7 linked regions of the Homo sapiens genome follow. The protein of the gene in region 5 purifies or fractionates together with the protein of the main gene of each other region. This does not show direct contact. Each region holds a gene or a part of one and is shown on either strand. Other genes may lie near its edges. The genes, in order: RALGPS2, MELK, TBC1D25, SLC30A4, SRGAP2, DEPDC1B and SLC25A12.

Region 1 (3,500 bases), about 28 Mb from region 5:
TTTGCCCATTTTCTACTTAACTCATTTCATTTGGCTTTTGGGCCATCAAGGTCACTGATGATTGTAATTTTAGCAAAGCCTCTATCCTTATCATAGCCAGCCTCTTAACAGCATCTGACCCAGCTGGCCACTCTTTGCTTTTTGAAGTACTGTAACTGCTAGGCTTCTGGGATAACAGTTCCTTAGTTTTCCTTTATACTCTTCTTTGTGGGAGACCTTTAATGCTACAGAGCCCCATCTCCAACCTTGTTTTCTTCTCTAGCTATACTTTCTTCTTAGATAATCTATCATCCAGTTCCATATTTCAAATACTATCTATCTGTATGCTAATGACTCCCAAATCTATCTCCCTGCCACCTCTCTGCTGACCTCATGATCCATACTTTTTCAACAGCCACAATGACACCTCCACTTGAATGTTTAATAAGCATATCAAACTGAACTTGGCCAAGACTGACCTGCCCCCCATTTCAATAAATGTCCCCAACATACACCCATCTCAGTCCCCAAACCTAGAAGTTATCTTTGTTTTCACTCTTTCTCTCATACATCATGTTTAATTTATCATCAAACAACTCCAGCTTTTGCCTCTTACTTGATCTCCTCCACCTTCCCCAATTTCAATGCGTAAACTACACAAGCCTTCTTGTCTCCTGAACTCTAGATATTCACACAGCTAACTCACCTTCCTCATTCAGATCTCAGCTCAAATGTTTTGCCATGGTGGCATCCCTCCTTGCCCCATCATTCTGTATCCTATGACATTATTTTAAAGCCTTATTCTCTATTTCTCCTCACTGAAATGTAATCCAGGAGGAAGACACTTTGCCTCACCTTGTTCACTGCTCTATTTCTAGCATCCAGCACACAAAAGGTATGGTAATGCTTCAACTGACATGCAATTCTGAGTTCACTAGCCTGCCTAAGAGATTCTTGATTTGTATGTGCCTTTGGCTTACTGTGATATAAACAACAAAATAAGATTACTTATATGAAGCCCCCATATCTTCAAAAGCTTTAAGTGTGAATATATATCAAAGGTTTTATATTTCAAATTTGAGAAAGGGAAAAAAATTGTTCCTTAGTAGTCAAACTACTATGCTGGTGTTGAGGAAGAAGAAACTTCTTTGATACATATTAAGAGCTTTGTTCCACCAATCTTCCTTTTTTCCCCCCCCAATATAGTTATAGGTTTGGAAAGCATTTAATATTTGGATTCTATGTTATGTAGAAAACAAAACTGTATTACAGGAATTTAAATAAAATGATAAAACACAATCAAATTCCATTTTTTAGGGTTGTTACTCTTTATTTTCTATTTTACCTAAACTTAATACTAAAATACTTCTTCATGATATACTTTCAGGGTTCTCTAAGAAATAATTTTGTATACGAACTATAATGGGGGTAAAAAAAAGTACAGGATTTAAGCACCCTTAACACATGATTTAACAGAAATCTATATGGCACATATAATAACATTTTATGTTAAGAAAACATGGTGAAACAAATGTGTACAATATTTTCCCTCTTATCTGTGGTTTCAGTTACCCACAGGCAACCATAGTCTAAAAATATTTATTGGAAAATTTGAGAAATAAACAATTCACAGGTTTTAAAATCATGTGTTGTTCTGAGTAACATGATAAAATCTCACACAGTTCTGCTCTGTGCTTCTGTGGACATAATCTTCCCTTTCTTTGTCCAGCGTCTCCACACTATATGTGCTACCCTTGTGTCCCACTCCCCACTGCTTCCTTAAGTGAAAAGAAAACTTCTTGGATTAAGGAAAGAAAAATTAGACGCTAAGGTTGCTAAGATCCATGGTAAGAACAAATTTTGTATCTGTGAAATTGTGAAGAAGGAAAAAGAAATTCATGCTAGTTTTGCTATAGCATCGCAAACTGCAAAAGTTACGGTTACTGTGTGGGCTTAAGTGCTTAGTTAAGATAGAAAAGGTATTATATTTGTGAATGGAAGACATGAACAGAAACATGTTCCAAATGATGGTAATTTGGTTTGGTACTATCTGAGGTTTCAGTCATCCCCGGGGGATCTTGGAATGGATGACCCAAGGATAAGAGGGGAGGACCTTATTTAATATTATTTCAAGTCTACTATAATCAGGTTTTATTTTAATTGTTTTAGTACTTTTACAGAGTCTTATAAATTTGCATATTTTTAGAGGTGTATTAAAATATAATATGATGAAATCTTACTGTAGGCTTTTTGCCTTCTTTTAACAAAGTTTTTCTCCTGAGAACACCTTGAATAGTAACAGCTCCTGGATATAAATGTACTGCCAAATCTTCTGATTCTGCAGAACTATAATAACGAAGAAAAGAACACATAAGAGCTTTTGTCTACAATAGTCATCAAGTAGGTACTTAAATAAAATGTAATTATTCTTAATTTTAAAAGTTTGTTACTTTATTCAGAGCTGAGAAGACACTGACAATTCTAAAGGTTTATTAATCTTGAAATTTATAAGCTGTACAAAAAGTTGATTAGAAAGTTATTAAAGTCAGCAGATGGTTAAAAAACACACTTTATTACATATTTGAACAGTATAATTTAGAAAGAATGCAGTAATTCACTTTAGTAAATATTAAATTAAAAATTTAAGATTTGTTTTCTTCTTCTTAACATGCCACACTGCATCACTGTTGCAACCTTATTTTCCACATAGAAACTTTAAGTCCTGGTAGGAAAAATGAGGATTCTATTTGTTAAAAGTATTTAAGTATATATAAAACTGAAAATAAAAATACAAGCTCAAAAAAAAAAAAAGAAAACATGCTTAATTTAATTCTAAAATAGCAGAAAGAAGTAATAAAGTCAATAATAATATATTTTAAAAACTAGCTTTCTGCAATACATTTTAATAACATTTAAATGGTGTCAATGGATAAGTGATTATGGCCTAATAGCTCTCCACGAAAGGAAAAAACCCAAAACTCAAGATTTCCTTTTCATGTATCTTTTAAAAAAAAAAAAATCACAAAATAACCAACACTTTAATATCTTTCCCTAATTGATTTAAGGTCCTATGTTTAATACAATAATTAATGATTTCTACATGAGCCAATAAAACATACATGCTGACAAAAATGTCACTGGTGACTTGACATGAGCTGCAGAATTCCTATAAGAGCAATGAAAACTAAAGTTTGCCAGTTTATTCCTTTGTGATTATTTAGGTGTCTTCAGAGTGACTTAAGAACCTATAAACCAGTAGAAATTTCATGCTAGAGCTATTTATATTCAGGGAGGTACATGCACGGAGATTAGACACCATCAAACTGACGTAAAGTTTGCTTCTGAAGTTTGGTATTTTGTTGTATTATGAACTGATTACCCATCACCACTAAACCCCACGTTCCCAATCAATACACCACCCTTATCTGCCTCCACAGCTAATAACAGTCCAAAAGAGACCTGGTTTAACCAGACAAACAACTGAATGAATATGAATTTAAATATACAAATGATTATTTTAT
Region 2 (4,288 bases), on a different chromosome or scaffold from region 5:
ATAAATGAATGACAAAACATTCCCTTCACTACTGACCAGAAGGAGTGCTATTTTTTCTCCAACTAGTTTAATTGGTGAAATCCATACCAATATAACTTGAGTTCTAGCCTTTGGAGACCAATAAAATGAAATAAAAATACAAATTTGGGGCCAACATTGAGACTTAGGGAAATTACCATAAAGTAACATTTCAGGGGGGGTTCATAGTTCGGATACTTATCATTTGTTGACCAAACATACTTAAAGTCAATACTCTTTTATTCAACATATTAAATGTGTTGTTTAACTCTGGTAACCACAGCTGTGACAGTTAACGATCTCAATAAATCCTACTTAAATCAGACAGGAAAAAATTATGCAAATGAATTCTTATCTGTTTTTCTGCCCAAGGCATATTTGATAACAGATAAAACATACTCCAAATAGTCTCTACTTAATAGTCAGGAAGCCATTTGAGGTTTTATTTGGATCAAAATCAAATACAAAAAAGAGAAGCCTGCTATATTCACAAATGGTTTTATTTCAGAAAGAAATTACACATTACAAAGAGACATAGTTAAGAGCTTACATTCACATATGGAAGTGAATCTAAGAAAGTCAACAATTATTAATATACAAAACCACATGATTAAAAAAGACAGTAACATAATGACAGATGGGCTTGATTTAGATTCATACACAAAATAATATCTTTTGTTTAAAAACAAAGAGATATTGGTCTTAAGATAGCTCTTTAGAAACAAGTTGGTAGTTCCAATGAACTTTAAAATCAAAGCGATCATAACAGTCTTTATGTAGGCTGTATCACACCCACACTCATCCGGCAGGATGGAAGAATCCATCAATTATACCTTGCAGCTAGATAGGATGTCTTCCACTAATCTTTTGTAAACCCAGGCATCGCCCTTAAGCCGCTGCCTCCTGATACCCACCACATCGGGTTTTTGAAGCTGGCACACTTCTAATTCAAATTGCATTGTCACTTTCCCAAAATCTGACTGTGTTTGACACTTCAGTGTATAACTGTGAAAAACAAGATAAGAAGCTAGTTAGTAGGAGAACCATATTCTGTATAAGAGTTTTCTAAGCCTCTAGGAGGCCAGTGGAGGAAATGAACCATTATTTCATATTAAGCAATGTATTACTGTTTACAGTTTCCAAATGACCTAGCTATGCTTTAGTAATAGAGTATGACTGGTGTTTTCCCAGAAACTGAACTAGGATCCTAAGAATAAGCATGAAAAGGCTTTATTACAAGTCTCCCTTGCTCCAAAGAAAAGCCCCTGTTTCATAGCTATACATGCCATTCATGCTCAAGAAATCTGGCATTCTTTATGCAATCCTTTCAACGTGTAATCCGCAAACATTGGGCATTTCCACAACATTCACAACAAAGGAAAGCGCAAGAAAGATAATATTTCATGTGTGTGAGCCTTGTCAGAAACTTGTCTTTCATATAAATAAAGCTGAAGCCAGTAACCTGTCAGAAAGGCACGTGTGTTTTTGAGGTTTTTCTAATTAGTAATGAGAGATAACCTCTTATGACGATCATCACATCACTTTATGGCAGAAAGAAAAGCAGAAGAAAAAGCCCAAGGAAATGGTATATTCCCATAACTGAAACGTACGGCATTTATAGATAGAACTGCCGCATTATCTACTCTGAGAATGGAAAGGCCCAGTCAAAATGAAGCCTGAAACACATCTTAAGACATACGTATGATCCTGCAAAGCTGTATAAATTTAATTCATGTAATAATATTTAATTAGTTTACATTCTATTTTAGAGTTTTGTTTGTCTTACCAATCTTCAATAAATAGGACTGATTTTAAGTTTCAATTCCCTAAATACTTAAGGGTTCCTGATTAAGTGCTGTTCCACAGATGTGTGGAGAAGTTACATTGTTTCAGTTATGTACTTTTTTCTGTTTCATACTGTTATGTACCAAAATATTCTTTTTCTTACTAACTTAGTCATGTGTTTTGGGAAAGAGGCTTGATCTCTCAAAAATAAGCAGTCAACATCAAAAATGCCAAAAGGAGCACCCTGAAGTTAAGATTCTTGACAAGAAGATGAGGCATAGAACAATTTAGTCACATGTTAGATAATAGATCATTGAGAGACCTGTGACAGAGGTATGCCCAGAGGCTCATAGCCCCAAGCATGAAGAAGAGATCAGAGTGGGAGAGATGTGTTCTAATGAAGCCTGAGAGGAATGCCAGGGTTCACAGAAGGAATGCTTGCCAACATTTACAGATAACTAAAAACTAAAAATTATATCTGCACAAGATTGTTTCTTCAAATCTTACTCTATATTGACTATTCTATTTACATGTTTAAATCCATGCATGTCTCTTCTGGTTGCTTTAATAAAGAAATTTTAAAGGGAAATAATTGAATGGAAATGCTTAGAAATACGGCCATCTTGGGTGACCAGAAGAGGCCTGGCTATTGAGACCAGGAGATCATAACCAAGGAGGCTTTGATGGCAGTTCCTTCAACAGCGGGAGAGAGGTAAGGTGAAAAAACTTCCTAAAGCACTGAAAACCCAGCCCTGTAAAACAGCCAGTCATGAAGAGAAGGATTCTGTATAAATCCCTGATTCATTTGAAATGTCTCACAAATTTAGATTATAATTTATAAATATTATTGTAAAGCAGACAATCAAAGGAAAATAGAGGATCTACAAGAAAGCCAGAAGAATTTTGAATTTTCCTATTTTGAAATAAAGTGGGACAATATCTGTGCTTCTAAAACTTTTATAGCTTGAACCAAACAAAAGAGAATAAATTATAAGCAATAACACTACCTCAAAAGCTTTTGGGAATGAGGTGGGAGAAATACATTTTTTCTAAAGCACAGGGGTGAGGAGATCAACTTCTATTTTCTCTTTTTTTTGAGACAGAGTCTCGCTCTGTTACCTATGCTGGAGTGCAGTGGTGTGATCTCAGCTCATTGCAGCCTCCACCCAGGTTCAAGTGATTCTCATGCCTCAGCCTCCCACGTAGCTGGAACTACAGGCATGTGCCACCATGCCCAGCTAATTGTTTGTATTTTCAGTAGAGACAGGGCTTCTCCATGTTGGCCAGGCTGAACTTGAACTCTTGGCCTCAAGTGATCTGCCCACCTCAGCCTCCCAAAGTGCTGGGATTACAGGCGTGAGCCACCGCGCCCAACCAACTCCTATTTTCTCAAAGTCCAAAAGATACTAATAAATGCAACAGCTTGTAAATGTGCTTCTTACCCCTTTTGTACAAAGTCAACATGCTTCTTTGGAAGAATAGACATTATTTCATTCAACAGTTGATCTGGATTCACTAATCTAGTTGTAGTCACGTTATAGTGAAGCTAAGAAAAGAAAAAGAAGAGATGAGAAGTAAATTTTTACATCAACACAAAGACCATCACACCAGATCAAGAGTTCCAAAACTCCTCAATATAGTACTGTTTCAAATGGAACTATTTCCTAAAAAATATCAAAGGAATTTACAGTCAACTCTTAGTGAGTTAATGGCCCACTGGGAGAGCTTGGAGAAGTTATGGTTATTAGTAAACACACCCATAGCTTCCTTTTCATACTTTCATCTTCCTCTCCTACCAATCCTTTTAAAGAAATAAATATTAAAGAGCACCCATCTAACTGTTTGAGCTTTGCCTATTTTCCCCTTCCCACACTATTTTAAGAGACATTAACAGTCCTGAAATGTATACCACGGAAAGATAAACAAACACCATACAAAGTTTGCTTTGTACCTAGTTGGATATGTTTCCTTAACTCTTTCTGGATTATTTAAAGAATATTATAGAGTTCCAGGAGCTGATTTTATGACAGTTCTATGAGGAAATAAATGTAACAGGTATTCCTTTAAAAAAGTGATGTCATATTATTTTTTCTCATTGACTGAGAGCCTAATTCTCAGAGATAATTTCATTCCTAATTGATATTTATCCTTCATTCATTCAACAACTACTTTTGAATGTTTACTATGTGGTAGGCACTGTTTTAGTGGGTCCTGGACACACAAAAATCCCTCCCTTCCTGGTAAGTACCTTCACTGTCAAACAAAACCATAGTTTCTATATCTTTCAGGTTTGAGTTCATTGTATAAATAACAAAATGCCTAGGAAGAAAAGTATCCAACTATCTTACTTTTCAAAATAAGAACCTATGGCCCAAAGAAGAGATACAAATTTCTTAAGGTAGTGCTTCTCATAGTGTGATACAAGATAGACAAGGTAATTCTGGGTGGCACATGGATAAATATTTTTAAATATGTATTTGTTCCC
Region 3 (3,500 bases), on a different chromosome or scaffold from region 5:
GCCTGACCAACATGGTGAAACTCCATCTCTACTAAAAATACAAAAGTAGCCAGGTGTAGTGGCACATGCCTGTAATCCCAGCTACTTGGGAGGCTGAGGCAGGAGAATCACTTGAACCCAGGAGGCGGAGGTTGCAGTGAGCCGAGATCGCGCCATCGCACTCCAGCCTGGGCAATGAGAGTGAAACTCTGTCCCTCCACCTGCAATAAAAAGGAGAAACTCAGAAATCATAAAGAAAAAGATAGATATCTGTGTAGGCGTGCAATCAAATGTTTAATTTTGATAGGACAAAACAGATCCATCCCGTAAGCAAAGCCAAAAAACAAAAGATCAACTGGGAAAAATATTTGCAGTACCTATGATAGAAAGGAGGTTGGGGGCTGGGCACGGTGGCTCCCGCCTGTAATCCAAACACTTTGAGAGGCCGAGGTGGGTGGATCACTTGAGGTCAGAAGTTCGAGACCAGCCTGGCCAACATGGCAAAACCATGTCTCTACAAAAAATACAAAAATTAGCTGGGCATGGTGGTGCACACCTGTAGTCCCAGCTACTTGAAAGCCTGAGGCAGGAGGAGAGCTTGAGGTCAAGGCTGCAGTGGGCCATATTTGCGTCACTGCATTCCAGCCTTGGTGACAAAGAGAGTCTCAAAAAGAAAAAAGATTCATATCGGAAAAGTACAAATTGGTCAAAGGTCTAGGCTTTGTAATCTCCCAACTGTAGAGGTGACAGAAACTGGCTTTTTCCCAGAAAGAGGGACTGGGCCATCCAAACAGTCCCAACATGTCTGTTGCTTTCACAGCCATGAAAATGATCATGAGAATGCCATTAATATGTCTAATGATAGCTCCATATATTGGACACTTACATATTAATGTGTAGAATACCTTATGTTAAACACATACCGTTTATGTGTACAGACACGCAAATATGAATATACTCACATATGTGGATAAATGTGTGTGTAGGGAGTGTAAATAAGTAAAGGACATGCAAAGTTACACATCAAACCGATTCCCTCGGGGCAAAAAGGGTAGGGTAGGGGATTGAGATTAGGCATAGCGTTCCCAGGAGACTTCAGCATTATTTAAAATGCTTTTATTTTTAATAAGAATGTATTTACTGGGTAATGAAAGATTAGTTTCTCTTAAAAATATGACTCCAATCAAATTCCCGTCAGGATTTTAATGGAATAATAAGCTGATTTATTAAATAAAAAGAACAGTAAGTGAACAAGAATATTCAAGAAAATTTTTTAAAAAGGAAAACATGAAAACATATCATAAAACTATAATGATTAAGGCTGGGTGCGGTGGCTCTTGCTTGTAATCCCAGCACTTTGGGAGGCTGAGGCGGGCAGACTGCTTGAGTCCAGGAGTTCAAGACCAGCCTGGGCAACACGGCGAAACCCTGTCTCTACAAAAAATACAAAAATTAGCTGGGCATGGGGGCATGTGCCTATAGGCCCAGCTACTCAGGAGGCTGACGTGGGACAATTGCTTGAGCCTGGGAGGTGGAGGCTGCAGTGAGCTGAGATTGGGCCACTGCACTCCAGCAAGGATGACAGAGTGAGACCCTGTCTCAAAAAAAAAACAAAAAAAAAACCCTCAAAACCAAACAAACAAACAGAAAACAAACTACTACAATGATTAAAACAACATAGAATTGGCTTATAATTTAATAAATAGATCAACGTAAGAGAATCAGGAATTCAGAAACAGACCGATGTTGTGCAGGAATTTGGTAAATAAGACAGAGGGCTTTTTTTTTTTTTTTTTTGAGATGGAGTCTAGTTCTGTCACTCAGGCTGGAGTGCGGTGGCACGAGCTCGGATCATTGCAACCTCCGCCTCCCAGGCTCAAGCAATTCTCCTGCCTCAGTCTCCCGAGTAGCTGGGATTACAGGCGCCTACCACCACGCCCGGCTAATTTCTGTATTTTTAGTAGAGACAGGGTTTCGCCATGTTTGGCCAGGCTGGTCTCGAACTCCTGACCTCAGGTGATCCACCCGCCTCGGCCTCCCAAAGTGCTGGGATTACAGGCGTGAGCCACGGCGCCTGGCCTAAAAAGATAACCTTTTAAAGATGTATTCCTGCCAGACTACTGGGTGTCTTTCTGTCTGTCTCTCTGCTTTACTGGCATTCGTCCCAGTTCTCATGCACTTGGGGTTTTCTCCACATGTTTCGTAGCCATGCAGATTTGATTTTTTTCCTGAAATAGTGCTACTGTGTCTCTTTAACAGGTGAGGAAAACAAGGCCCAGGGAATTAAGTGACTGACATAAGCACATATGGCTACTCAGTGGCAGAGGTTCCTGTGTGTCTGGCTACCTGGCTTTTCCTATTTGGCTTCCTGCCCATCTCTGTCACTATCTTTCCCTCTGACTCTTGTTTCTCTCTCTCCTCTGTCTCTCTTTTGCAAAGCTGCCAATTTTAACAAGTCCAAAATGTTGTAGAGTTAAATGGTTAAGAACAAGGACTCTGGAGCCAGTTCAGCCACTGCCTGAGTTCAAATCTTGCTCTTCAACTTACTGTCTGTATAACTGGGACGAGTCCTGTCACCTCTCTGAGCCTCAGTTTCCTCATCTATAATATGGGGAAAATGATTGTCCCTACTCTATAGGATTATTTTGACAATTCAGTGAAAAAATATTATGTGCACAGAATGGCCCTAAGTGTTCACTACACATTAGCTAGTTATATGTTATTATGACATCAATAAAGTGCTCGACTCATCCCAAATGGGCACATGAGTTTCCTGAGGCTGGGAACCACATCTTCCACTCCACAACTATTTAAAACAATTTTGAACCTACAATAAAGTTAAAAGAATACACTGAACACCCATACATACTTCATCTAGATCCTCTATTAACATTTTTTTGGGCCACATTTGCTTTATCTCACTCTCTCTGTATATAAACACATTATTTTTGCCAACTTATTTGCAGACATCATGACATTTTACCCCTTCATACTTAACTGTGTCTTTCCCAAGAACAAGGATATTTTCCTTCAATAGATATGATACCACTACCACACTGCTATGGTTTGAATGTGTCCTTCCAAATTCATGTGTTGCAATTTAATTACCAATGTGATCATATTAAGAGGTGGGGGCCTTTAAGAGGTGATTAAGTCCTGAGGGTAGAGCTCTCACAGATGGGATTAGGGCTCTTTTTTTATTTTTTATTTTATTTATTTTTTGAGATGGAGTCTTGCTCTGTTGCCCAGGCTGGAGTGCAGTGGTGCGATCTTGGCTCACTGCAAGCTCCGCCTCCCGGGTTCATGCCATTCTCCTGCCTCAGCCTCCCGAGTAGCTGGGACTACAGGCACCCGCCACCACGCCCGGCTATTTTTTTGTATTTTTAGTAAAGACAGGGTTTCACCGTGTTAGCCAGGGTGGTCTCGATCTCCTGACCTTGTGATCTGCCCGCCTCGGCCTCCTAAACTGCTGGGATTACAGGCGTGAGCCACCGTGCTCAGCCTCTTTTTTTTTTTTTTTT
Region 4 (2,825 bases), on a different chromosome or scaffold from region 5:
GCTCAGTGTAGCCTAGACCTCCTGAGCTCAAGTGATCCTCCTATCTCTCAGCCTCCTGAGTAGCTGGGATCACAGGCATGTGCCACTATGCCCAGTTAATTTTTGTATTTTTTGTAGAGATGAGGTTTCACCATGTTGCCAAGGCTGGTCTTGAACTCCTGGGTTCAAGCAATCCAGCTGCCTTGGCCTCCTGAAATGTTAGGATTACAGGCGTGAGCCACTGCACCCAGTGATTTAATAGATGTAAAAATCATTCTTAGTTCTTGGGGCAAATAAAACAGGCTTGCAGGCCAGATTTGGCCTGGGAGGTATAGTGTAGACTGGTCCACACGATTGGAGAGTCAGCAGGCTCTTACTCTCAGACTTCCTGGTGGTCCTCACCAGTCTATTTTACAGTGGCTTCTTTATTTCCTTTCTGCCACTGTTGATGGGACTGTAGCGTCACTGCATGTGACTGATACCAAAAGAGAAAGGTTCTTTTAATTAATCTTTCCATACTATCCAGAAGATTTTTTTCAGTTTTATTTCTTAAACATATAAGAGGGCATTATAAAATGACATTATAATTATAAAAGATTTTCTTTTAAGAACAATGTTTTTAGGCCTACTAATATTACTTAATAAAAAGAGCAGATATTTAAGAGACTGTACATTTTTATTTAATAAACCACATGGCAAAACAATACTTTAATAAGTGTATAGGAAATTACAATGTGAAAGTTGCAAATACAGCACATATATATATATATATATATACTTTGATCTTAATTAACATGGACAAACCCCAGCTTCAAAATCTTTCTAAAATCAATCATATGCAAAATACCTGGTTTCTGAAAGGGCATATGATAAAGTATATACAATTTCTTAAACTGTGATATGGCTTATTTAATAACATGTATTTATTGAGAGAAGCATAAACTTTCCAAATATACAGTATCTTCCAGGTAGAAAGATGACATACTGGCACATTTCAATTTTGTGTTGCAGTTATCTGAGAATATACTAAATTGCACTATTTAAGTGGACACTGTCATAGATTTAACTGGGAAAGTCTCCATAAATGTTTTCCAATCTTATCAAAAAGCAAATTGGTCCTCAATGATTGGAACAGCAGGTTAAACCCTTTACAAGTCAGAATTCAGTGACTGGCAGGCCTGAGTGCACACATGTAATTCAATACTGAGGAACTCCCACAACACTGTCTTCTAATTTGCATGCTCCCACGAACATCACAAATAATATACCTGATTGGCAATCAGTAAAACAAATCTCAAGACCTGGTTGTCAAGATTCATACGACACATCTGGAGTTAGGGTTTGCAAATTGTATTTTGGCTACAAAGATATTAAACTTTATCAATTATTCGAAGATCAGACTTGCCTCCCCTCAACATAGCATATAGTGATGGGTGTTCATTTATGACAAATAACCAACTGGCTCATGAGCTTGGCTTGCTTCAAAGACAAAATGAACCAAATGAACTAATCTTCTATCTAGGAAACACTCTGTAACTTTAAATTTGCTATATACAAATCAGAGCCAACAGCAAAATTGCCTAAAACCTTATTTCAAATGGGCTCATATTCTGTAAGAACACCATATTAAGTTGAGCCAATTAACATATATGCATAAAAGGAAAATAGATTTAGCTAACTGCTTGTTTCAAAATCAAATAAGTCTACAAAAGCTGTGAGAGTGGCTGAGAAACACGACCCAAAGTCTTCTTAGCAATGATATTCACTGGTGGTTGTGCAGTGTAGTCTCTTTGTCTACCACACTTACTCTACGAAGTCCAGTGTGCAGAGAAATCTGGATCTGGAACAACCAGCCATTTTAAAAAGGTTCTTTCATACCTGGACATACATTTCTAAGCGGTGCCTTGTCTCTGAAAGATGATTTTCCTCACATTAAAATGAGAGAGAAGCTCACGTGTCTGATCTTGACTATGTCTATTCTGGAAAGTCTATGAAAGACAAACACTGTCAGGTGGAACACCTGGGTTCAAAAGGAACACTAAGTCTCGTAAGAGCAAGAAACTTAGTTTTAGAGAATGGAAATAAAGCACCCAAAGTTGAAAAGAAAACAGTAAAATAAGAAACCCGGTGATGTGGCAAAAAAACACTGATGGGAACTCTAAGTTGTAAAAATCTGCACTCACATTACATAAGGCATAGCTAATGGAAATGTATGTAGGAATTACAATAGCTTCCAGTTCTGCATATCAAAACCTTCTGAGACATGCTTTCTTCAATTACACTCCCATTATGTTTCTAAGGCAGCATAATTGTTAGTGGAATAATAGGTCTTTTCCTGAAACAGACCAAAAGGTTGCATCTGGCCATAGTTGTGAAACACACGTTTATGTACACAAGTAACTCTGATTATTTGCAAATACTAATTAAAATATATCACACCAAAGAACTGCCAAGTTTTTATATTGTGGTCTGTGGTCCTGTCATAATCTGTTTTCCCAGTGCAAAATTAATAATGCTATGTGTTCATCCAACTCAGCCACTGCTTTTCACAGGGCATAGAGCTCTTTGAGAGCTCAGCTGAGAAGTGTAATGCATGGTTGTAGCTCAACAAGTGAAGGATAGACCAAACGCTTTTTGTCAGAAGTCATTCAGTCCTTGGTCCTATCTGCTAAGTTAATGTCCTTTTCTGTGGGTTAAGTTACAAAAAGTGAAATCAAATTCTCAAATCTCATAGACTCCGTAAGGTAAAGATACAAACTATGTACTTTTTCCTACAAAAACAAAGCACAGGAAACTTTATGTGTACCTCACTTTAAGCAGAACACGATAGTTAAGATTTACAGAAG
Region 5 (3,198 bases):
ACATCTGCCCCCTCCCACTTATCCTAGCTTCCTTGGAGCCAGGGCTCCCTGATCACACTGCCCTTTCTGTTTGTGATTGAAGGCAAAGGAAGCGTCCAGAATCTGGGAGCATCCGGAAAACTTTTCGGAGTGACAGCCATGGGCTGAGCAGTTCCCTGACTGACTCCTCCTCCCCAGGGGTGGGGGCTAGCTGCCGCCCATCCTCCCAGCCCATCATGAGCCAGAGCCTCCCCAAAGAAGGGCCAGATAAGTGTTCCATCAGTGGGCACGGGAGCCTCAACTCCATCAGCCGCCACTCATCCCTGAAGAATCGGCTGGATAGTCCACAGATCCGGAAGACTGCCACAGCGGGAAGGTCAAAAAGCTTCAATAACCATCGGCCCATGGACCCTGAGGTCATTGCTCAGGTAACTGTGGGCTCCTGGACAGACAGCATGAGTCTACATTCATCACTACCACTTAGTGCCACCCACCTAATTATGACAGGACTTGAAACAGAATGATTATTTTGTATGTGATATACTGAGTATATGTCCACTCTGGACATGTGGACCCAATAAGACAGCTTAATAAGTGGTCTGCCTGTCCCTCTCTCCCCAGGAAGAACCTAAAGACAGAATAAAAGAAGCCTAGCTTCTTGCTCATACACTGGCTATTAGGAAGGCTGTTGTAATTTTTAAAGCCGGTATTAAGAGTATTTTGAAAGCCCAAGTTTTGAGTCTAAAGACCTTGGTAGACTTTAGTGAAACTGCCCGACTGTTGAGGATCAGGTGTAATCCTGGCCACATGTTTATATTGCTGTGCCCATCACCATCATCCCGATTCCTAAGGCTAGTCTCTGGTACCGAATGGGTAGATGATCAATTAAGAACCTGCACCTGGTTTTAAAGACCTAAAAAATACTCTGGCTGCAGAGAGCTCTGGTAACCAAAAGGATTTGCAGCCCAAGCCTCCAGAGGCTATGGAGATGAGCTCCCTGGTTGCAGGGTCTTCCTTCTGTGTATGCACCGCACTGATGACTCTCTGTTTTCCATGAAATATTAGAGATCCAACCCCACCTCTAAAAATCCGACTACCGGGGCCACTCCAAGCAGTTCACTCAGACGTCTCTCCCAACTATATAATTTTCATTAGACCAGGTAGGAACTAAGGGCTTATTGTTGCCTTCTTATCTCAACTGAGTTGAGATTCTCCTTACCCCATCTTCCAGGGGGTGATAGAGGCTGGGCATGGTCTCTCTTGGCTTAATTGTGGTTCTCTGCTTACGGAGATGTACCTGGCAAGCCCAGTATTGAGCTACAGGCCTGAGATGTCTTGCTTTGCTAGCCTTCTATTCTGTGCCTCTATTTAAGCTCTTGGCTGCAATCTGCCTTGCGCTACGGGAATCCTCCCAGCTCCCTCCTTGGCCAGGTGTTAATAGGAATGTCAGGAAAGGTAGACAGCTGGGACAGACTAGCTGTAGAGTGCGACTGAGGAGGGAGATGGAGTTCTTCCTGAGCATTTTAAAGGTTTGAGAATGTCATAGGGATGAGTGAAACTGAATCACTGTGAACAGAAAGCATGCATCGGTCTGTACGACAAAGAAACCTTAACCAAAGGCCTTCGCTTGGAATGTGTAAAATCTTTCCATGTGAACCTAATCCCAAGAAGAAATCCTGTGGTAGTTTGGGGGTGCCAGACACAGGTTTATGGGGAGGGAGCGGGGAGCTGGGAAGTCTCACTGGAAGGCAGCTGGCTTGCATACAAAGGTTCTTTGGTTCTGCCTTGAGTCCCTGGGCTAGGACTGCTGTTGGCTAAAGATCTAGAGTGTTCCATTGATTTGCAGGCAATTGATTCACCTATGTGGGCTTTGGCTCCCCTTCCTGGTCATTCTTTTGTCCCCTTGGTGGTGATGGCTGGAAGGAAATGGTTTCAAATTGGACACTGCCCTGAGTTGGGGAGGAGGGGCGGGGGGAGGCGTATTGGGCTCCTGAAACTTTCCTCAGCCCCTGAGGAGGAAGGACTAACCCTCTTCACCTTTGGCCTTGAAGTCCAAGAGAATAAAGATCATACATCATCTCTACCACTTTTTAAAAAAGTGTTTATTATGTACAATTTCAAACCTACCCAAAAGCAGACAGAACTGGATAACAAATCCCCATGTACTCATCACCAAACTCCTGGCCATTCTTACTTTGTCCGTGTTTCTCTTCCCCACTAGATTATATGTCACTTCGTCGATAAGTATTTCAATATCTATCTCTAAAACCTAGGGTCTCTAAAAAAATATCAATTACTTTTTCTAAAGGAAAAAAAAAAATCTCATGACAGTGAAAATCCCTCCGTCCCCCTTTCCCTACTTCCTGAGCATTCATATGTTCAAAGATTTAGGCCAAGTACAATAATCTGGACATCTTACGGTCATTTTCTTCATGCCTTGGCCTGTGTTGTTGAAACCGGCTCCTTGGGGAATTCTCCCCTCATTTGCCTCACCTCCTCCTTTTTCCTGTTTTGCAGGATATTGAGGCAACAATGAACTCGGCCCTGAATGAGCTACGGGAACTAGAACGGCAGAGCAGTGTCAAACACACCCCTGACGTGGTTCTGGACACCTTGGAGCCCCTCAAAACCTCCCCAGTGGTGGCCCCCACGTCAGAGCCCTCCAGCCCTCTGCACACCCAGCTCCTCAAGGACCCCGAGCCCGCCTTCCAGCGCAGCGCCAGTACTGCTGGGGACATCGCCTGCGCCTTCCGGCCTGTCAAGTCTGTCAAGATGGCTGCCCCGGTCAAACCACCAGCCACACGGCCCAAGCCCACTGTCTTCCCCAAAACAAATGCCACTAGCCCTGGTGTCAACTCATCAACTTCCCCACAGTCTACTGACAAGTCTTGTACTGTCTGAGGGATAATAATTTAATTGTTCTAGACAAGGGGACTATAGGGACTGACTGTTATTAAAATCTTCCTATTTAACTAGCTTGGGGACTTCAGTTGAAAATTAGGTTCTAAGTTGTTCTTGCAGGAATTAGCCTCCCCGTCTCCCAAAACCTTGAGAATGAAGCCCTTGGTATCGCCTCTCCCTTCCCACTGCCCTCTGCTTCCCCCAGTCGTCGTAATTCAGCCAGCTGCAGTCCGTACCGTTCTTAGGTTAGCCAGAGACAGGTTTTCATTATCAGGTCACTGTGAAATCTGGTAAGGCAGTCCTGAGGACATGGGCTCA
Region 6 (3,500 bases), on a different chromosome or scaffold from region 5:
GCTGCTGTTGTCATGGTGGTTATATAAAAACAATGCAAAAGAAATATAATATATTATTATCGTGTGGACCCCAAAGTGGGGTTTGTATGTCAGCCTGTGGGAGCAGAAACCTGGTAAAGGCAGGCAGAAGGTCCACTTGACTCCTTCTGACTGATTGGACCTCTTCTCATTTGAGATCTTTTTGAGGCACCACAATCAAGGACCAGTGAACTGCCTCCTTCTGAGGTATTACAAAAATAATTAATTGTCCAGCTGTTTCTAGAAGGCAATTTTAAAATTAAAATTTTTTCTATTTTTTTGCAATTATCAACCTAACACATTGAAGAAACTTGGGAAATATAGAAAAAACACACCAAAAAGTATCAGAGTTACACTAAAATGTTCATAGTCAGTAATATAGTCTTTCAGATTTTTTTTTCTGTGTCTGTCTGCTGTCTATGTCCATGCCTACCTTACTTTCTTCCCTCTCTCTTCCCTCCCCACCCTCCCTTCCTTCCTTCCCTCCTTCCCACCTTCCCTGCTTCCTTCTTGCCTGCCTCCCTTCCTGCCTGCCTCCCTTCCTGCCACTTACATTCTGTTAACAATGAGAAAAAAATTCCCCCATCATTAAATATTGTTGATTGGCATGAGAATGGCCAAGAGCACAGACTCAGGAGCCTTTGAATTCATGACATGCCTTTTGTTAGCTGTGTCACCTTAGGCAAATTATATAACATGTCTGTGCTTCAACATCTGTCCCAACATTTCTTTTTCTCATCTGTAAAATGGGAATAATAGTAGTTAATATTTACCTCATAGAGTTTTTCTGGGGAATTAAAACATGTGATTAAAATACATGTGGGCTTAATACATGTGAAATGCTCACAATAATGTTTATCACATTGTAAACCTACAATTAGTAGCTGCCTTTGTTGTTGGTATCATCATTATTGTTATATTATTCCATAATAATATTATTGGCAACATAGTATTCCATAATATGGATATACCATAATTTATTTAAATGATACTTTTTGGTTGGTATTTAGATTGTTTTCATGCTTTCCCCCATTTTGGAAGCAATATAGCAGTAAATATTTTTAAAGGTAGATTTTTTTTGGCTAATCTGTGATTATTTTTTAAGAATAAACTCCTAGGGGCAGCATTGCTTGGCCAAAGGCCATGAACATATTTTAAGTATCTATAGCATATTGCCAAATTTAGAATGATCATTTCAATTTACATTTCTGTCAGTGGTATAAGAGAGTGTTCATTTCTTTGCCCCTTTGCCTACTTTGGATATTATCATTAACACTTGTATATATCTTTGCCACTTGCATGGGTGAAAAGTGTAATTTTAACTGCTGTTTTAGTTTAATTTTTTCCTCTGATATTTTTATGAGCCAACCCTAAAGAAAATAAAAATGAACAGAAATACTTCACCAAGTTTCTGCAAGGAAATGTTATAGCAGTGTATTAGTCTGCTCTCATGCTGCTAATAAAGACATACCCAAGACTGGGTAATTTGTAAAGGAAAGAGGTTTCATTGACTCAGAGTTCAGCATGGCTGGGGAGGCCCCAGGAAACTTACAATCATGGCAGAAGGGGAAGCAAACACATCCTTCATGAGGCAGCAGGAGAGAGAAGCACCGAGCAAAAGGGAGAAAAGCCCCTCATAAAACCATCAGATCTCATGAGAACTCACTCACTATCATAAGAACAGCATGGGGGGAACCACCCTGTGATTCAGTTACCTCCCATCTCCCACAGCAAGGGGATTATGGGAACTACATTTCAAGATGAGATTTGGGTGAGGACACAGCCAAACAATATCAAGCAATAACTGTGTTGCCCTGTATACTTGCTAGGTTTGTGTATTCACATGCATAGCACAGGCATATATTGTAGTAACTTAGCCTTGTGAGCCCTTTGCTATTACTTGAAGTTCAGAAGGCTGAGCTATGGTGATTAATTTAACTGCAGGTAAACATGATCTTGTTAAGAGACACTGCAGTGTGCTCTGAATAAAATCAGTAGTGATTCATTTGTCCAGTTACCTTTTCTCTCTTGCAAGTACATATTAGAATTGCCAAGCACCTGTTCCATTCAGCCCTCAGAACCTATAGATCTTTGTTCTTTTGATTAGGCTCCTAAGCCTCTACACTGTATCACATTTAGGGGAGTGCTTCTCTGAAAATGCAGTGTTGCTTGGATTATTCCAGTGATTGTTTTAGGACAGTTTCAGGGCTGACCCTGGGATACATTATTAGGTAGGCAATGTTTTTGACACAAGCCTTCTATGATCCTCATCTGCAACCTTCTATTTCAAAGGACTCCAGGCTCTGAAATTAAATATTTTTAATGTATGTTCATTTATTCACAGGCCTTGGTTTCCTTTTTCCTCTTATTTCTCTCTTCTCCCTTATCCCTTCTGCAATGTCTGCACCTTTGTTGTTTTACTTGATTCTCATGGGTAAGATGTTAGGAAATGATTGTAGTACCCCTCTCTTCCTAAAAGCTTAGCTAAATGCATGCCACTACCATCCCCAAGGCATTGAGAATCACACTCTTCAGATGTGGGAATGCGCCTGGATAGTTCCAGTGGATATCCAACATTATCAATGTTTTGAATCATTTTAGTCAATGTGTTTAATTTATGCTTGAATTTCAGATCTTGTTAAAAGAGGGAATGCCGAGACCAGCTCGGTCGTGGAGACCCTAACCCAGTGGCCCTAGAGGAATTAAAGACACACACACACACACACACAAATATAGAATGTGGAGTGGGAAATCAGGGGTCTTACAGCCTTCAGAGCTGAGAGCTTTGAACAGAGATTTACCCACATATTTATTGACAGCAAGCCAGTCATAAGATTTACTAAAAGTATTCCTTATGGGAAATAAAGGGGTGGGTGAAATAAAGGGAAGAGCTCTGGCTAGTTATCTGCAGCATGAACATGTCTTTAAGGCACAGATCGCTCATGCTATTGTTTGTGGTTTAAGAATGCCTTAAGCGGTTTTCCGCCCTGGGTGGGCCAGGTGTTCCTTGCCCTCATTCCTGTAAACGGACAACCTTCCAGCATGGGCATCAAGGCCATCACGAGCATGTCACAGTGCTGCAGAGATTTTGTTTATGGCCAGTTTTGGGGCCTGTTCCCAACGAGGGCACAAGCTTTTTTTGTTATTGAAATGGCTCTTGGGTTTACAAAGGTAAAAATCCAATTTAAAACCGTGGCTTTAAATAATAATATTTTGAAGTTATGGAAATACTTTTACTTTTCAATATAGAGTTTCCCCCAATCAAATTTTGAGGACTAACATGGCATTGCTACGGTACAAGGAGATATCCTGTATTTGATCTAAACTAATTCTTATAATTTATTTGAAAATATGCTATATTCTTTCACTACTAATCCTTTTGCCTCAGATAAAATACCCAGGAGCTGATATGGATATCACTTTATCTGCTCCATCATTTTGCCGTCAAATTAGTCCAGAGGAATTTGAATATCAAAGATCAT
Region 7 (3,500 bases), on a different chromosome or scaffold from region 5:
GTAAAATCTTAGCTTAAACCAGTTGTAAAATTACAGCACAGCCTAACACATAAGAATTCATTTGTTGTACTCCAATTTCATGAACTTGGCAGAGTGGAGGTGGGCAGAAAAAGGCAGAATCTTAGTGCATACTGTTGTTGTTGATGTTTTTTAACTAATAGAAACATAGCTCATCAAAACTTGAGAAGCAATGAACACCACAGGAAAAATGAACCTATTTCCCTATATTCAAAATAATAATGCTTTACTCTTATAAAGCCCTTCTTATGAACTCCCACACCAATTCTCATACAATTTCACTAAACATAGATACATAAATAAGTCAGTTGCCACTTTCTTTTCTTTTTTCCTTTTTTTTTTTTTTTTTGGAGACAAAGTCTTGTTCTGTCACCCATGCTGGAGTGCAGTGGTATAATGATAACTCATTGTAACCTCGAACTTCTGGGCTCAAGTGATCCTCCCATCTCAGCTTCCAGAGCAGCTAGGACCACAGGCATGTACCACCGCACCCAGCTAAATCTATATACATATATTTGTAGCCATGGAATCTCGCTTTGTTGCCCAGGCTGGTCTTGAACTCCTGGCCTCAAGTGATCCTCCCACCTCAGCCTCGCAAAGCACTGGGATTACAGGTATGAGCTGCCGCACCCAGCTGATATACCAGTACTTTCAAATAAAAATATATATATATTTTTTTAATTATTATTTTTTTTGAGACAGTGAGTCTCGCTCTGTCGCCCAGGCTGAAGTGCAGTGGCACAATCTCGGCTCACTGCAACCCCCGCTTCCCGGGTTCAAGCGATTCTCCTGCCTCAGCTTCCCTAGTAGCTGAGATTACAGGCGTGCGCTACCACATCTGGCTAATTTTTTATATTTTTTATAGAGACAGGGTTTCACCATGTTGCCCAGGCTGGTCTCAAACTCCTGACCTCAAGTGATCCACCCGCCTCAGCCTCCCAAATTGCTGGGATTACAGGTGTGAGCCACCACACCCGGCCATTTTATTGTTTTACAAATGACTTTTGACCCATGGCTCAAAAGTTTAACAAAATATTCTTATTTGAAAGTAGGAATTTTTATTGACTATTTGTGAACTTAAACAGTTAATGCCACAGATCTACATTTTACAAAGAGTTTTCAACTGTACTCTAAAATTTAAAATTATATCTCTTTATAGTCTTTAAGTAGCTCAGATAATTCTAAACTCAAGTGACCCCAAAATCCTCCCCAAACTAAATCATACTAATAACAGAATAATCTACATTTTAACCTTTAATTATATCCTTCTTGTGAAACTCCTACTTTAAACTTTCATGGGACCATTCTCCCTATTTCCCCTCCTCCTCCTTCCTACTTCAATTGGAGATATCACTTATAAATCAGCCCCTGATCCTCTGCCTTGCTTTATATACAAGGAATTCATCTACCACCTGCACAAATTTGTATCTGTCCAAATCCAACTTTAACTTAGTGAGATACATTTGTTTAGCAACCAAACTAACCCCATCCCCCCAAAAAATATTATCTAAATAGATGCCTTATCAATTAACACCTATCCTAAAACTGACAGGTTCACTTCTACTTCTTCCCTTACTTCCATATTTAATACCAAATTCGATAGATTCTTCCCTTACATCGCTGGTATTGTCCTTGCTTTTCATTTCCCCAGCCATCAACCACTCTAGGTCATTAATTCTCAAAAGTATTACTTCAGTAGCCTCTCAGCTTATCACCTAAGCTACTTCCAATCTCTTCATACTTTATCCAACATACACAAAAAGCTGCCAGAATTCACCACTTCAATTTGCCTACTCAGAAACCCACAGTGGCTCCCTACTGTTTCAAATCCAAATTCCTTGGCTAACTATTCTAGACAGTTACAGTGTAAAGAAACTTTTTAAATTTCATCACCTAAGTAACCAGATTTTTTTTTAACTTCTTAACACTCTGCCATTATCCCCTGATATACCTCTGTCTTTCAAAAGTCACCCCATTTCAATATCCTACCAGTAGTATTATGTAAGGGTTAAGGGTATGGGCTCTGGAATTTGATTTGAATCTGGCTCTACCACATAGTCTGACATTAATTTAACCTCATCTATGTAACAAGGATATTAAACCTGCTTCATAAAGTTGTTATGAAAACTAACATTAATATCCTTAAAGCACTAGGCCAATCTCAAGCACACTCTAAATGATCAATAAATGTTAGCCATTGTCAATATTATTACACAGCCACTATGATGTAAGAAGCCAATCTGATTGCTCTACCACAGGCTATGCATTTGCCTTCACTATTCTTGATTCCCTCAACCACAAACCATGAGAGATGGCATGGGCCTGAGAGAGCAGCTAGTCCAATCACATGTCCATCAGCATTTAGGTCTTGGCTCTGTTGTCTCTCTTGATATTCGACTTGGTGTCTGCTACTGAACAGTATTGTATTGAATAAAAGTGCATGGTACACAGCAAATAATCCTTTGTAAATATTTGTTGGGTAAATATGTTAAGTGCTAAAGAAATACACGGTTAGCATGTATTTTTGTCTTCTATTATAGCTAAAATATTAATCAACTATATGCATCTATAAAACTGTTTCATAAAACTGTTTCTAAACAGTACTGCAAAGCTTCAAATAACTATAGTTTGAAGTATTCAAGCCAGGAATAAAAATCTTTTACTTGGTAACTATCCTCAAATTGATCCAACTAGCAATACTGTATCGTGTGTGTCTGTGTGTGTGTGTGTGTGTGTGTGTAACAAGGTCTTGCTCTGTTGCCAGGCTGGAGTGCAGTGGTATGATCTTGGCTTACTGCAACCTCTGCCTCCTAGGATCAAGCAATCCTCCTACCTCAGCCACCTGAGTAGCTGGGACCACAGATGGATGCCACCAGGTGTGGCTAATTTTTAAAATTTTTTGCAGAGACGAGGTCTCACTATATTGCTCAGGTTGGTCTTGAACTCCTGGGCTCAAGTGATCCTCTAGCCTCAGCCTCCCAAAGTGCTGAGATTACAGGTGTGAGCTACTGCACTCAGCCTATATTGTTATCTTTCTTGCTGCGTTAGGCCTTTCTGAAGGTGAGTATTTACATTCTATCACTCTCTTATCTATCAATAATGCTTGTGTCAATGTTTCATACTTAGTGCTAAATAAGCAGTTATGAATTCCACAAATTTTCAACATAAAAATAAAGGCATCATCAAAATAATGTGTAAAAAGATAATGACGATATGCAAAACAGTAAATGAAAAGCTAAGATTTAAAAGTTGTCAAAGAATCGGCCAGGCATGGTGGCTCACGCCTGTAATCCCAGCACTTTGGGAGGCTGAGGCACACAGATCACGAGGTCAGGAGATCAAGACCATCCTGGCTAACATGGTGAAACCCTGTCTCTACTAAAAATACAAAAAATTAGCCGGGTGTGGTGGCACATGCCTGTAATCCCAGCTACTCGGAGGCAAGAGAATTGCTTGAACCCCGGAGGCAGAAGTTGCAGTGA

Evidence for each region.
Region 1: the proteins of SRGAP2 (region 5) and RALGPS2 purify together in Homo sapiens (affinity purification with mass spectrometry, with the first as the bait; one large-scale study listed by BioGRID). This does not show direct contact.
Region 2: the proteins of SRGAP2 (region 5) and MELK purify together in Homo sapiens (affinity purification with mass spectrometry, with the first as the bait; one large-scale study listed by BioGRID). This does not show direct contact.
Region 3: the proteins of SRGAP2 (region 5) and TBC1D25 purify together in Homo sapiens (affinity purification with mass spectrometry, with the first as the bait; one large-scale study listed by BioGRID). This does not show direct contact.
Region 4: the proteins of SRGAP2 (region 5) and SLC30A4 purify together in Homo sapiens (co-immunoprecipitation; one large-scale study listed by IntAct). This does not show direct contact.
Region 6: the proteins of SRGAP2 (region 5) and DEPDC1B purify together in Homo sapiens (affinity purification with mass spectrometry, with the first as the bait; one large-scale study listed by BioGRID). This does not show direct contact.
Region 7: the proteins of SRGAP2 (region 5) and SLC25A12 purify together in Homo sapiens (affinity purification with mass spectrometry, with the first as the bait; one study listed by BioGRID). This does not show direct contact.

Annotation. Positions count from the first base shown.
Region 1 is NC_000001.11:178,892,744-178,896,243, reverse strand, and holds part of RALGPS2 (ras-specific guanine nucleotide-releasing factor RalGPS2), read right to left. Parts: intron 2,326-3,500; coding exon 2,220-2,325; intron 1-2,219. UniProt on the Homo sapiens protein: Guanine nucleotide exchange factor for the small GTPase RALA. May be involved in cytoskeletal organization. May also be involved in the stimulation of transcription in a Ras-independent fashion.
Region 2 is NC_000009.12:36,673,895-36,678,182, reverse strand, and holds the end of MELK (maternal embryonic leucine zipper kinase), read right to left. Parts: intron 3,350-4,288; coding exon 3,246-3,349; intron 1,024-3,245; coding exon 846-1,023; 3' UTR 501-845; downstream 1-500. UniProt on the Homo sapiens protein: Serine/threonine-protein kinase involved in various processes such as cell cycle regulation, self-renewal of stem cells, apoptosis and splicing regulation. Has a broad substrate specificity; phosphorylates BCL2L14, CDC25B, MAP3K5/ASK1 and ZNF622.
Region 3 is NC_000023.11:48,546,214-48,549,713, reverse strand, and holds part of TBC1D25 (TBC1 domain family member 25), read right to left. Parts: intron 201-3,500; exon of another isoform or gene 70-200; intron 1-69. UniProt on the Homo sapiens protein: Acts as a GTPase-activating protein specific for RAB33B. Involved in the regulation of autophagosome maturation, the process in which autophagosomes fuse with endosomes and lysosomes.
Region 4 is NC_000015.10:45,479,106-45,481,930, forward strand, and holds the end of SLC30A4 (probable proton-coupled zinc antiporter SLC30A4), read right to left. Parts: 3' UTR 501-2,825; downstream 1-500. UniProt on the Homo sapiens protein: Probable proton-coupled zinc ion antiporter mediating zinc import from cytoplasm potentially into the endocytic compartment. Controls zinc deposition in milk.
Region 5 is NC_000001.11:206,458,541-206,461,738, forward strand, and holds part of SRGAP2 (SLIT-ROBO Rho GTPase-activating protein 2), read left to right. Parts: intron 1-82; coding exon 83-407; intron 408-1,044; coding exon of another isoform or gene 1,045-1,134; exon of another isoform or gene 1,135-1,139; intron 1,140-2,496; coding exon 2,497-2,880; 3' UTR 2,881-3,198. UniProt on the Homo sapiens protein: Postsynaptic RAC1 GTPase activating protein (GAP) that plays a key role in neuronal morphogenesis and migration mainly during development of the cerebral cortex. Regulates excitatory and inhibitory synapse maturation and density in cortical pyramidal neurons.
Region 6 is NC_000005.10:60,599,167-60,602,666, reverse strand, and holds part of DEPDC1B (DEP domain-containing protein 1B), read left to right. Parts: intron 1-3,406; coding exon 3,407-3,500.
Region 7 is NC_000002.12:171,887,745-171,891,244, forward strand, and holds part of SLC25A12 (electrogenic aspartate/glutamate antiporter SLC25A12, mitochondrial), read right to left. Parts: intron 1-3,500. UniProt on the Homo sapiens protein: Mitochondrial electrogenic aspartate/glutamate antiporter that favors efflux of aspartate and entry of glutamate and proton within the mitochondria as part of the malate-aspartate shuttle.